Linked DNA regions of Homo sapiens. The protein of the gene in region 1 interacts with the protein of each later gene in a pairwise test. Each region holds a gene or a part of one and is shown in the gene's direction. Other genes may lie near its edges.

Region 1 (3,500 bases):
GTGCCTGTAATCCCAGCTACTTGGGAGGCTGAGGCAGGAGAATCGCTGGAACTTGGGAGGTAGTGGTTGCAGTGAGCTGAGATTGTGCCACTGCACTCTAGCTGGGCAACAGAGTACAACTCTGTCTCAAAAAAAAAAAAAAAAAAAAAGGGCTGGGCATGGTGGCTCACGCCTGTAATCCCAGCACTTTGGGAGGCTGAGGCGGGTGGATCACCTGAGGTCAGGAGTTGCAGACGAGCCTGGCCAACGTGGCGAAACCTCGTCTCTACTAAAAATACAAAAATTAGCCGGGCGTGGTGGCACTTGTCTGTAGTCCCAGCTACTCGGGAGGCTGAGGCAGGAGAATCATTTGAACCTGGGAGGCAGTGGTTGCAGTGAGCCAAGATCGTGCCACTGCATTCCAGCCTGGGTGACAGAGTGAGACTCTGTCTCAAGAAAATAATAAAAAAGTTAAAAAATGGCTGGGTGCCGTGGCTCACGCCTGTAATCTCAGCACTTTGGGAGGCCAAGGTGGGCAGAACACAAGGTCAGGAGTTCGAGACCAGCCTGGCCAGCATGGTGAAACCCTGTCTCTACTAAAAATACAAAAAATTAGCCGGGCATGGTGGCGCGCACCTGTAGTCTCAGCTACTCAGGAAGTTGAGGCAGGAGAGTTGCTTGAACTCAGCAGGCGGAGGTTGCAGTGAGCCGAGATCGTGCCATTGCACTCCAGCCTGGGCAACAGAGTGAGATTCCGTCCCCCCCCAAAAAAATATATATATATATATACATGTATACATGTATATATGTATATTCATGTATGATACATGTATACATGTATACATGTATATTCATGTATGCATACATGAATATACATGTATGTATATACATATATACACGTATATATACACGTATGTATATATGTATACATGTATATTCGTGTGTATATATGTATATTCATGTATGTATATATGTATATACATGTATATATATGTGTATATATATATATGTATGTCACCATTTACTAGTGTAAATGTGTAACTTTTTCAGTTTTTGTTTTTTTGAGATGGGGTCTTGCTGTGTCACCCAGGTGGGAGTGCAGTGGCACAGTCATGGCCCATAGCAGCCTCTACCTTCAGGGCCGAAGCCGTGAGTAGCTGAGACTGCAGGCCTATGCCACCATACTTGGCTTATTTTAAAGTTTTTTTCGAGAAACGGGGTCTCTATGTTGCCCAATCTGGTCTCAAACTCATGGGGGCTCAGGCAGTCCTCCCTCCTCAGCATCCCAAAGAGCTGGGATTACAGGCATGAGCCACAGTACCAGGCCTGTGGTAACTTCTTTATTTAACTATTTATGCCTCACCTTTTCTTTTCTTTTTTTTTGAGACGGAATTTTGCTCTTGTTGCCCAGGCTGGAGTGCAATGGCATGATCTCGCTCACTGCAACCCCTGCCTCCCAGGTTCAAGCGATTCTCCTGCCTCAGCCTCCCAACAGCTGGGATTACAGGTATGCGCCACCATGCCCAGCTAATTTTTTGTATTTTTAGTAGAGACGGGGTTTCTCCATGTTGGTCAGGCTGGTCATGAACTCGTGACCTCAGGTGATCGCCTGCCTTGGCCTCCCAAAGTGTTGGGATTACAGATGTGAACCACTGCGCCAGGCTTCTTTTCTTTTCTTTTCTTTTCTCTTTTCTTTTCTTTTTTAGAGATGGAGTTTTGCTCTTGTTGCCCAGGCTGGAGTGCAATGGCGTGATCTCGGCTAACTGCAACCTCAGCCTCCCAGGTTCAAGTGATTCTCCTGCCTCAGCCTCCCGGGTAGCTGGGATTATAGGCATGTGCCACCATGCCTGGCTAATGTTTTTGTTTTTTTAGTAGAGACAGGGTTTCACCATGTTGGCCAGGCTGGTCTTGAACTCCTGACCTCAGGTGATCCACCCACCTTGGCCTCCCAAAGTGCTGGGATTACAGGCGGGCATGAGCCACCACACCCGTTAATGTGAAGATAGTATATACTGGGTTGTTTAAATAGGATAATGCTTGCTAAGTACTTAACTTACTGCCTGATACATGCTAACACTCAATAAATTGTTGGCTATCACACACTAGCTGCCTAATATAAATGTTTATGAGTACATTGAGATAATTTTTTTTTTTTTTTTTTTGAGACAGGGTCTCACTCCTGTCACCCAGACTGGAGTGCAGTGGCACGATCTCGGCTGCCTGCAGCCTTGACCTCCCAGGCTCAAGTGATCCACCCACCTTTGCCCTCCAAGTAGCTAGGACTACAGGCAAATGCCACTGCCTGGCTAATTTTTGTATTTTTTGTGGAGATGGGGTTTTGCCATGTTGCCTGGTCTGGTATCGAACTCCTGAGCTCAAGTGGTTCCACCTGCCTCAGCCTCCCAAAGTGCTGGGGAGAGTCTAATATTTAAGGATGAGTTGCATTATATAATTTTGATTTGATATTGGATTTATTTTTATTTATTTATTTTGAGACGGAGTCTCGCTCTGTTGCCCAGGATGGAGTGCAGTGGCACAATCTCGGCTCGCTGCAACCTCTGCCTGCCCTGTTCATGCCATTCTCCTGCCTCAGCCTCCCAAGTAGCTGGGACTACAGGCGCCCGCCACTATGCCTGGCTAAATTTTTGTATTTTTATTAGAGACGGGGTTTCACCGTGTTAGCCAGGATGGTCTTGATCTCCTGACCTCGTGATCTGCCCGCCTTGGCCTCCCAAAGTGCTGGGATTACAGGCGTGAGCCACTGCGCCTGGTGATATTGGATTTATATATCTGGAGTCTGACATACATTTTTGAAAGAAATAGTTAGAATATCAAGGTAGCTTAGTAACTTTTTGCACCTATAATGGACTACTGTGTAGTACTTAATGGGAGTTTTTTTCTTTCTTTGGGATAGATTCTCGCTCTGTCACTCAGGCTGGAGTGCAGTGGTGAGATCAAAGTTCACTACAGCCTCAATCTTCTGGACTTAGCGATCCTCTCACCTCAGCCACCTCAGCAGCTAGGACTACAGGCGTGCACCACCACACCTGGCTAATTTTTTTTTATTTTTAGTACAGACGAGATCTCACTATGTTGCCCAGGTTGGTCTTGATCTTCTGAGTTTAAGTGATCCTTCTGCCTTGTTCTCCCAAAGTGGTGAGATTATACACAGGAGCCACTGTGCCCACCTCTGATGGGAGTTTTTAATTTATCACAGGTTTTCTTTTTCCTTTGCTGGATATAAAGCCTGTCTTAAGAAATGACATTTCAGGCCGGGCGTGGTGGCTCAGGCCTGTAATCTCAGCACTTTGGGAGGCCGAGGTGGGTGGATTGCTTGAGGTCAGGAGTTCAAGACCATCCTGGCCAAAGTGGTGAAACCCCGTCTTTACTAAAAACACAAAAATTAGCTGGGTGTGGTAGTGGGCGCCTGTAATCCCAGCTACTTGGGAGGCTGAGGCAGGAGAATCACTTGAACCAGGCAGAGGTTGCAATGAGCCGAGATCGCGCCATTGCACTCCAGC
Region 2 (3,500 bases), on another chromosome or scaffold:
GCTGAGGAGGCAGAAGCTGTATTATAAGGATGAAGCACAAAGTGTGAACAATTTGTTCTGTTCAATCCTACATAAGAAAAAAATGAGAAGAGTTTTCATTGGTCCGTTACTTACATCTTAGAAAGGATTTCTGAAATAAAAATGTATTTCTTTTTTTTTTTTTTTTTGATATGGAGTCCCACTCTGTCACCCAGGCTGGAGTGCAGTGGCACGATCTTGGCTCACTGGAACCTCTGCCTCCTGGGTTCAAGTGATTCTCCTGCCTCAGCCTCCTGAGTAGCTGGGATTACAGGCATCTGCCACCATACCTGGTTAATTTTTGTATTTTTGGTAGAGACAGGTTTTCGCCATGTTGGCCAGGCTGGTCTTGAACACCTGACCTCAGGCGATCCGCCACACTTGGCCTCCCAAAGTGCTGAGATTACAGGTATGAGCTGCTGCGCCCTGACTAAAAATGTATTTCTTGGCCTGGCATGGTGGCTCACGCCTATAATCCCAGCACTTTGGGAGGCTGAGGTGGGTGGATCACTTGAGCTCAGGAGTTTGAGATCAGCTTGGACAATGTGGTGAAAACCTTTCTCTACAAAAAATACAAAAAAATTAGCCAGACGTGGTGGCACATGCCTGTAACCCCAGCTACTTGGAATGCTGAGGTGGGCGGATTGCTTGAGCTTGGGAGGCGGAGGTTGCAGTGAGCCAAGATCAGGCCACTGCATTCCAGCCTGGGCGATAGAGTGAGACCCTTCCACAAAACAAAACAAAACAAACAAACACAATATATATGTATATTTCTCGAATATTAACTTTATTCAGGGAGCTGTTATAAAAAGGGCTAGATGGCCCAACAGATAGTTCCACAAAAGAACAACTGTTTTGCAGAGCAAAAATTACAATTAGCTAATTGCCTACCATCTTCTCTCACACTGTAGAACATACTGTAAATCCACGAATTTCCGCTTCCATTTTGTGAACTGGACATTTATCTAAGGATGTATATAAACAGTATTGGGTGCCGTGTGAGGGGCTGTACATGTTTCCTCTTCTGATCTGATCTTACAACACCCCCAGGACACTATGGCCACATCCAATTTTTTAGCTGAGGAGGTGGAGAGATTAAGCTATCTAACCAAGGTCACATAGTAAGTGAGTGGCAGAGCCATGTTGGAATCAGTTCTGTCTGACTCCAGGACCTGGGCCCTAGATTAGAGCTTCTTAAATGGGTGGAAACCTTTTAGACTGTGACCACAGTTAGAAATACCCTTTACAGTGAGATCCCATATACACACATGTGCACACACATACACACACACAACATAGATTTTCACTGAGCAATACTCTTATGACATGCTCTGCATGCTGACTTTTTCTCTCTATCCTATTTCATTTTTTAAAATGCTGATTGTGATGTACTAGATTGATTTTACAACCCACTGATGTGTCATGACCCACAGTTTGCCTCACTTTTAGCATTCAAACATGGTGACACCTTGGCTGTCTCCTCCAAACTCATGAACAGCCCAGAACTGGATTTAGTTGAATCTGTAATTCCAGTAGAAAGTTTGGCCTTTCCCCAGGGGAGACCAATCTGGGTTGGGGTCATTGTTCTTTGTGATACTGGATTTACTTTCTTTTGCCATGGTATGAAAAGTATTAATATGGAGAATACATTTGAGAAAAGGTATTCCATGAAGACAAATTCAGACACATAACTTTTTGTGTTCATTCATAACTAGTGTCTTGACACTGTTTGAAATCAATGTTAAGAAAAATCATGTGACAAGGTTGATCTATTACAGGAAAAACTGGTGATTTGGTTCATGTTTTAGAGAAGAAAGATGTAATTTCCATATCACTCATAAAAAAGAGGCATTATCAATTTTTTATTAAAAGATCATGCACCTCAGACTAAACCCCACTAAATGCTGGTTCGGGTCTTCTTTCCTTGAAAATGTTTCGTTTCAAAAAAGTGGCTTCACAAAGAATAGGTTTGTTTCCTTGTATCCCAAGCAAGTCCACGGAGACATCTTTCATTAGATGTCAGGGAGCAGTGTTACAATGGGTGGGGATAGGATTTTATAAAGAACATGGGCAGATGAAATGAAAACTTGCTGTGTTAGAGGTGGGATATACTTGTGTGACTGAACCGCTCCTTTCTCCTCCTTCTCCCTTTACTCATTTTCTAATTTCTGCATACCCACTGGGATCACAGCTACTTTTATGACCTCCAATGGGAGAATGTATTTCAATTTAAGTCAGTGAGAAGGTACTTTACGGAAAGTACTTTCTTCTCCCTCACCCCCAAACAAATGAAATTAGATTTTTAAAGTGGGTCCCTGGGAGAAAACGTTGCTGGGGAATCTTTCTGAGTATGAGTCCACCATTTTGAAGCCTTCTATTGATGGTGCCTTGTGTTATCTGCTTTCTATTTCTTTGAAAACATTTTCTGTGTGTTCTCAATGGCTGCTGATTTCCGAACAAGCCTCTCCTACCCTGTTGGCCTCTGTTTTGTCTCTTCTGAAGAAAATATCCTGCAAAATGGAGAAACACATCAACCTTGACTGTGATCCAAGTTATTAAAACAAGGAAGAAGTTATTCTCTGGGGACTCGGGTAGGGGGAGTGGGAAATCGAACACAATAGAAATGTGAAAGGAGTGCTCAGCAAAATGAATGTCCCTTTGCTGGTCCAAGAAGTTCACAGGCTGTTGGGAACACACAGTATTCAACCTGTGGATGCTTGAGAGGAAAAACAAAAAAGACTCAACAATGAGTGATGTGTGGTGAAAACAAAGCTGTGCGTTTTGGTAGGGCCAAGGCTGTCGAATCTGGAGAAAATCCCCGCTAGACATGGTCTCATCCCTGAGAACCTGTGCCAAAAGAGATAGCTGTCTTCTCTGGCTGGGAGCTCCAATACACAGCCCAGCACCTTCCCTCGCGGGCTCGTGAACATAAGGTATCCGTCCAAGAGATTTACTTCTTGGAAATAGATAGCTTGCTTTTAAGTGGCTCCCGGAGCCTGAGATGCAAAGTGAAGGTGGGGAGCCTCAGTTCTGTGAATATCAGCATTGCCGAGCCTACTCCATCTCCACCCCCAGCAACAAGTTATTAATTTTCCACCGTTTAAAGTTTCATTTAATGCCATTTAAAGAGTTTTTTTTCTTTATTATTGCCTTGCATTGGACTTGGCCTGAGGTCTGTTAACCCTGCCAACCAGAACGAAGAATGGGACTCCAGGGTTTGATAAAGATGGAGACTCGTGACTTAGCTCTGTGTCCCTCTCACTTAGTGTGGACTGATTCGGAAGCTTCTTTCCTTTGCTTCTCACTTTTCTGCTTCTTCTTTCTCCTCCCTGGCTGTTGGCCTTTTCTATCCTTTTATTTTTGGACATGCATTTGATGAATGTATTGAATTTTTTTATTATGTAAGTAATGTGTATAAATTATAGAACAGTTAGAAAATACAACTACGCAGAGAAGGAAATTAAAACTCCCCCCAAAAGCCT
Region 3 (3,500 bases), on another chromosome or scaffold:
AACCACTCCTTTAAAGATACAAGGGAAGAGACCTTTGGCAGAGAGGTCTGAAGCTTCATGGGTGGATGAGGGTTCCCTTAGATGGGATTTCCAGATGAAAAGAAATTAAAAAACAATCAAATACCATCTGACCACCATAGGTAAGAATGTTGCTTAATTTTACAGAAATTTGTACCTATTGACTGGTAATAGCAGACTGTGCTGTACAGAGACTAATGTAACTCCTACTTTGTCGACTTCTTTGAAACTGCTCTAAATAAGTTACATACCATATATCTTTTTGTGGTAGAACACTGTAGTATATTTACACCCTCTGTATATTGCATTCTAACTTGGAATTCTGGTCCGTGGTTTCATCCATTGTTAGCTGCGATGCTAGACTCTCCCGGGAGTTAAATACAGTGGGGCTGTATTTATGTGAAGCGGGTATGCTTGGTCGTTCAGTGGCTGTTTCATTGCATATTACCTCCCACTTTGCTCCCATCTGTGTGTGTGGTAAAGGGAATTGTCCTAAAAAATACAGGCTTCCTCTGAACACAGACATGTATTTGTATACCAGTAAGTCAACAATCTCCTGAATTTGGGTGCCATTAATAATTGTCCTTTTTAAAAGGCTTTTAGAGCTTAGAGGGGGTTAGCAGTCGTTCTGTGGAAACCGATGTACATTTCCACATTTTCTGTAAATGCATTAAAAAATAATGTGTATTAAAGTGAAAGGAAATCTGTAAGATATCTTTTTAACAGAAAACTTTAATTTTTAGATTAATACAGAGATGAATTGTCGTGTATCTCTTGGAAATCAATGGTTAACATGATAGTCTCACACACTTTTTAAAATTACTTCATCTAATTGAAAAATTACAAAGAGGCTGATGAGCCACACATCCATGGAATATTTATCTTGAAACCTAGAGTCCTACTCACTTAATGTCTTGGCCATACTTCATGTATCTGAGAAACCAACTGAAATCAGAGCGCTTTTCTAACGTCTTAATTATGCAAGATTTTAAAAAAAGAAAACTAAAGTAAGCAATACCTGAGACAGATATTTTTACTATGAAAAATATTGCACTGGGATGGTGAAAGTTACTGCAGATAATGCAGCTATTTAAAATTATTATAGCTGCAATTACTAAAAAATGAGGAAGGTTTGACTGAGAACTATTCAAAATAGTTATTAGCCATGTGATTATAAAAAGGAACACATGAATGATATTTGCATGTTTAACCCTGGTTATAAAAAGTCATTTGATTTTTTTAACAGCATGTACAGCAGTTACAAATCCTTACAACTTTAGGTAAAAATGAAGAATCCCACTGTGGAAAGTGCCACAAGGAAAGAGCTGGATTAGGATGTATTAGTCACATGTGAAAAATAAAAAATATGTATGTGCATGTCTACATATGTGTGTGGATGTGTATAGTTACAATAAATACTTATATTTTAAACTTGATTTTTAAACCAACAATGGAAAGTAGCAACTCTGAAAGAATTTTTCTTGTGATTTGAAAGAACTCTTTCCCTGTCCCCCGTTCATGAAAGTTAGCTATTATTAAAAGCCTGACTACTTAGGAAATTATTTGTGTGGGTATTTCAGACATAAAATGTGATAAAATATAAGGTATACTTCTAAAAAAAAAAGTACAGCTCTAAATAGGTGAAAAGAAGAAAGAGAATATGCAAGGAAGAAAGAAAATAAAAAAATTGGAAGAAAGGAATAAACATTAAGAAGGAAAAACAACATCATGTATTCAGGGTTTATAGTGTACAAGCACTGTGTTAAGCTTATTACATTTTTTTGTTTTATTTAATATACAGTCCTAGAAGATGGATCTTACAATTTGTTTCACACAAATGAGGAAGTAAAGATCAGAAGTGTTAAAACCATGCATTCCCTAAAGACACACAGCAAGTTAATGGCAAATCTGGGAAAGAAACCAGGATCTGGCTGGTGAAGCAGAAAAAAAGTCAACCCTGGCTCCATTCTCAAATGTTATTACTCCACAGTCTGTGCCTCCCTTTAGGTATACAGGACACCCAGGCAAGGCGAGCAAGGGTTAGACTGATAAGTTTTTCAGGGGTGAGGTGGGACCGGGTTCAGAGGCAGCCTCCAGTCCACTCAGGCAGAGAGGAGGGGACTGATCCCTGACATGGTCCGAGAAGTAGTGGGGTAGCCTGGGTGGTGGGGCTCTGGGAGGCTAAAATGATACATTTTCATGAATTTTTCCACAACTTTTGCACTTTTGCTTTTGCTTGTAGACTTTTTGTCTTCCAAGAATCTTAGAAGATTTAAAACAATCTTTACAATCTTTGAGCAGGTGATTCAAAACACATTACCTGCCTGCCCTTCTGTCATGGAATGCTGGCATTTCTCAAAGGGGTGAGTCTTGATTGCCCCACACTAACAGGTGAAGGTTATGTGGTCTTTAGCAAATCATTTAGCTCCCTATACTGTCCTCTCCTACCTGTTAAAGAAAGGTCTACGCCCTGCTTCTTAACATCCTCACATAACAATCAGAATTAATTCCCAAGGAAATTTTTTTAAAAAACAGAAAAATACTGTAAAATTGGTATGCATGCCACAAAACGTATCATTTTGGGGAGCTGTTCAATTTGACTGACAATTTAAAGAAAAAGAATGCATGACAATCCATGATGAACTCATAGTACTTTCTTTACTTTGATTACCTTTCTCATGCTCTCCACATCTCTGTTGATGAATGGGTCAGATATCATCATCCTTATTTTACAATTGAGGCAGTGAGAGGGTAAGTGCCTGACCGTTGCCAGCAACCAAGATAAGAACAGGACTTGAGTCTCCTGTCCAAATCTGAGGTTCATTTTACCTCTTTCTTATGTCCAAATTGCTACCTCAGTAACTACCTTTGCCCTTAGTTTCATTGGCTGTAAAAATGGGATTGTATCATATCTATAAAAGGTGATCTCTTTTAGAGTTAAGATTTTATTATCTCAGGAATCTGAGCCTCAAGTACTTTTGGCATGAAAATGCTTTATATGTTTAGCAAAAAATTAGAAAACAGTCATTGAATCAGGAGATGGACTGGCTGTTGGTGAACTCAGTCGATGAAGCAGTTGGAATATCTGAGTCATCCCTAACCTATGATGCAGACTTCATCAGAGATGAATCTGGAGGCAGAAAATGTTTCCAGATCCACATTGACTTAGAACAATGCTGGGAAATTTTTGAAGTTTTTTTTTTTAATGGTGTTCCCTTAATTGAACTATACATTTTTAATTGGTCAAAATAACTTATGATCTTTTTTCCTATCACAAACATAAATTGTTTGGAAATTATTCTAAGCTATTATTCTCAGAGAAAAAATCCATAGTGATACTCTAGATTTAGCCTTTATGCCTTAATAGAAACTTGAAGAGATGCTGAAGCAATGTTATTAACATGCCATTTGCCTCCCTGTTACTTGCTTGACACACAACAGATATCAGGAAATGTTACAGTTGTCACTGAAGGAAGGTAAAT

The links. The genes of interacting proteins can lie anywhere in the genome.
Region 2: the proteins of TAOK1 (region 1) and WT1 interact in a two-hybrid assay, tested with the Homo sapiens proteins (one large-scale study listed by BioGRID and IntAct).
Region 3: the proteins of TAOK1 (region 1) and DYNC1I1 interact in a two-hybrid assay, tested with the Homo sapiens proteins (one large-scale study listed by BioGRID and IntAct).

Annotation. Positions count from the first base shown.
Region 1 is NC_000017.11:29,396,863-29,400,362, forward strand, and holds part of TAOK1 (serine/threonine-protein kinase TAO1), read left to right. Parts: intron 1-3,500. UniProt on the Homo sapiens protein: Serine/threonine-protein kinase involved in various processes such as p38/MAPK14 stress-activated MAPK cascade, DNA damage response and regulation of cytoskeleton stability. Phosphorylates MAP2K3, MAP2K6 and MARK2.
Region 2 is NC_000011.10:32,411,540-32,415,039, reverse strand, and holds part of WT1 (Wilms tumor protein), read left to right. Parts: intron 1-3,500. UniProt on the Homo sapiens protein: Transcription factor that plays an important role in cellular development and cell survival. Recognizes and binds to the DNA sequence 5'-GCG(T/G)GGGCG-3'. Regulates the expression of numerous target genes, including EPO.
Region 3 is NC_000007.14:96,090,554-96,094,053, forward strand, and holds part of DYNC1I1 (cytoplasmic dynein 1 intermediate chain 1), read left to right. Parts: intron 1-3,500. UniProt on the Homo sapiens protein: Acts as one of several non-catalytic accessory components of the cytoplasmic dynein 1 complex that are thought to be involved in linking dynein to cargos and to adapter proteins that regulate dynein function.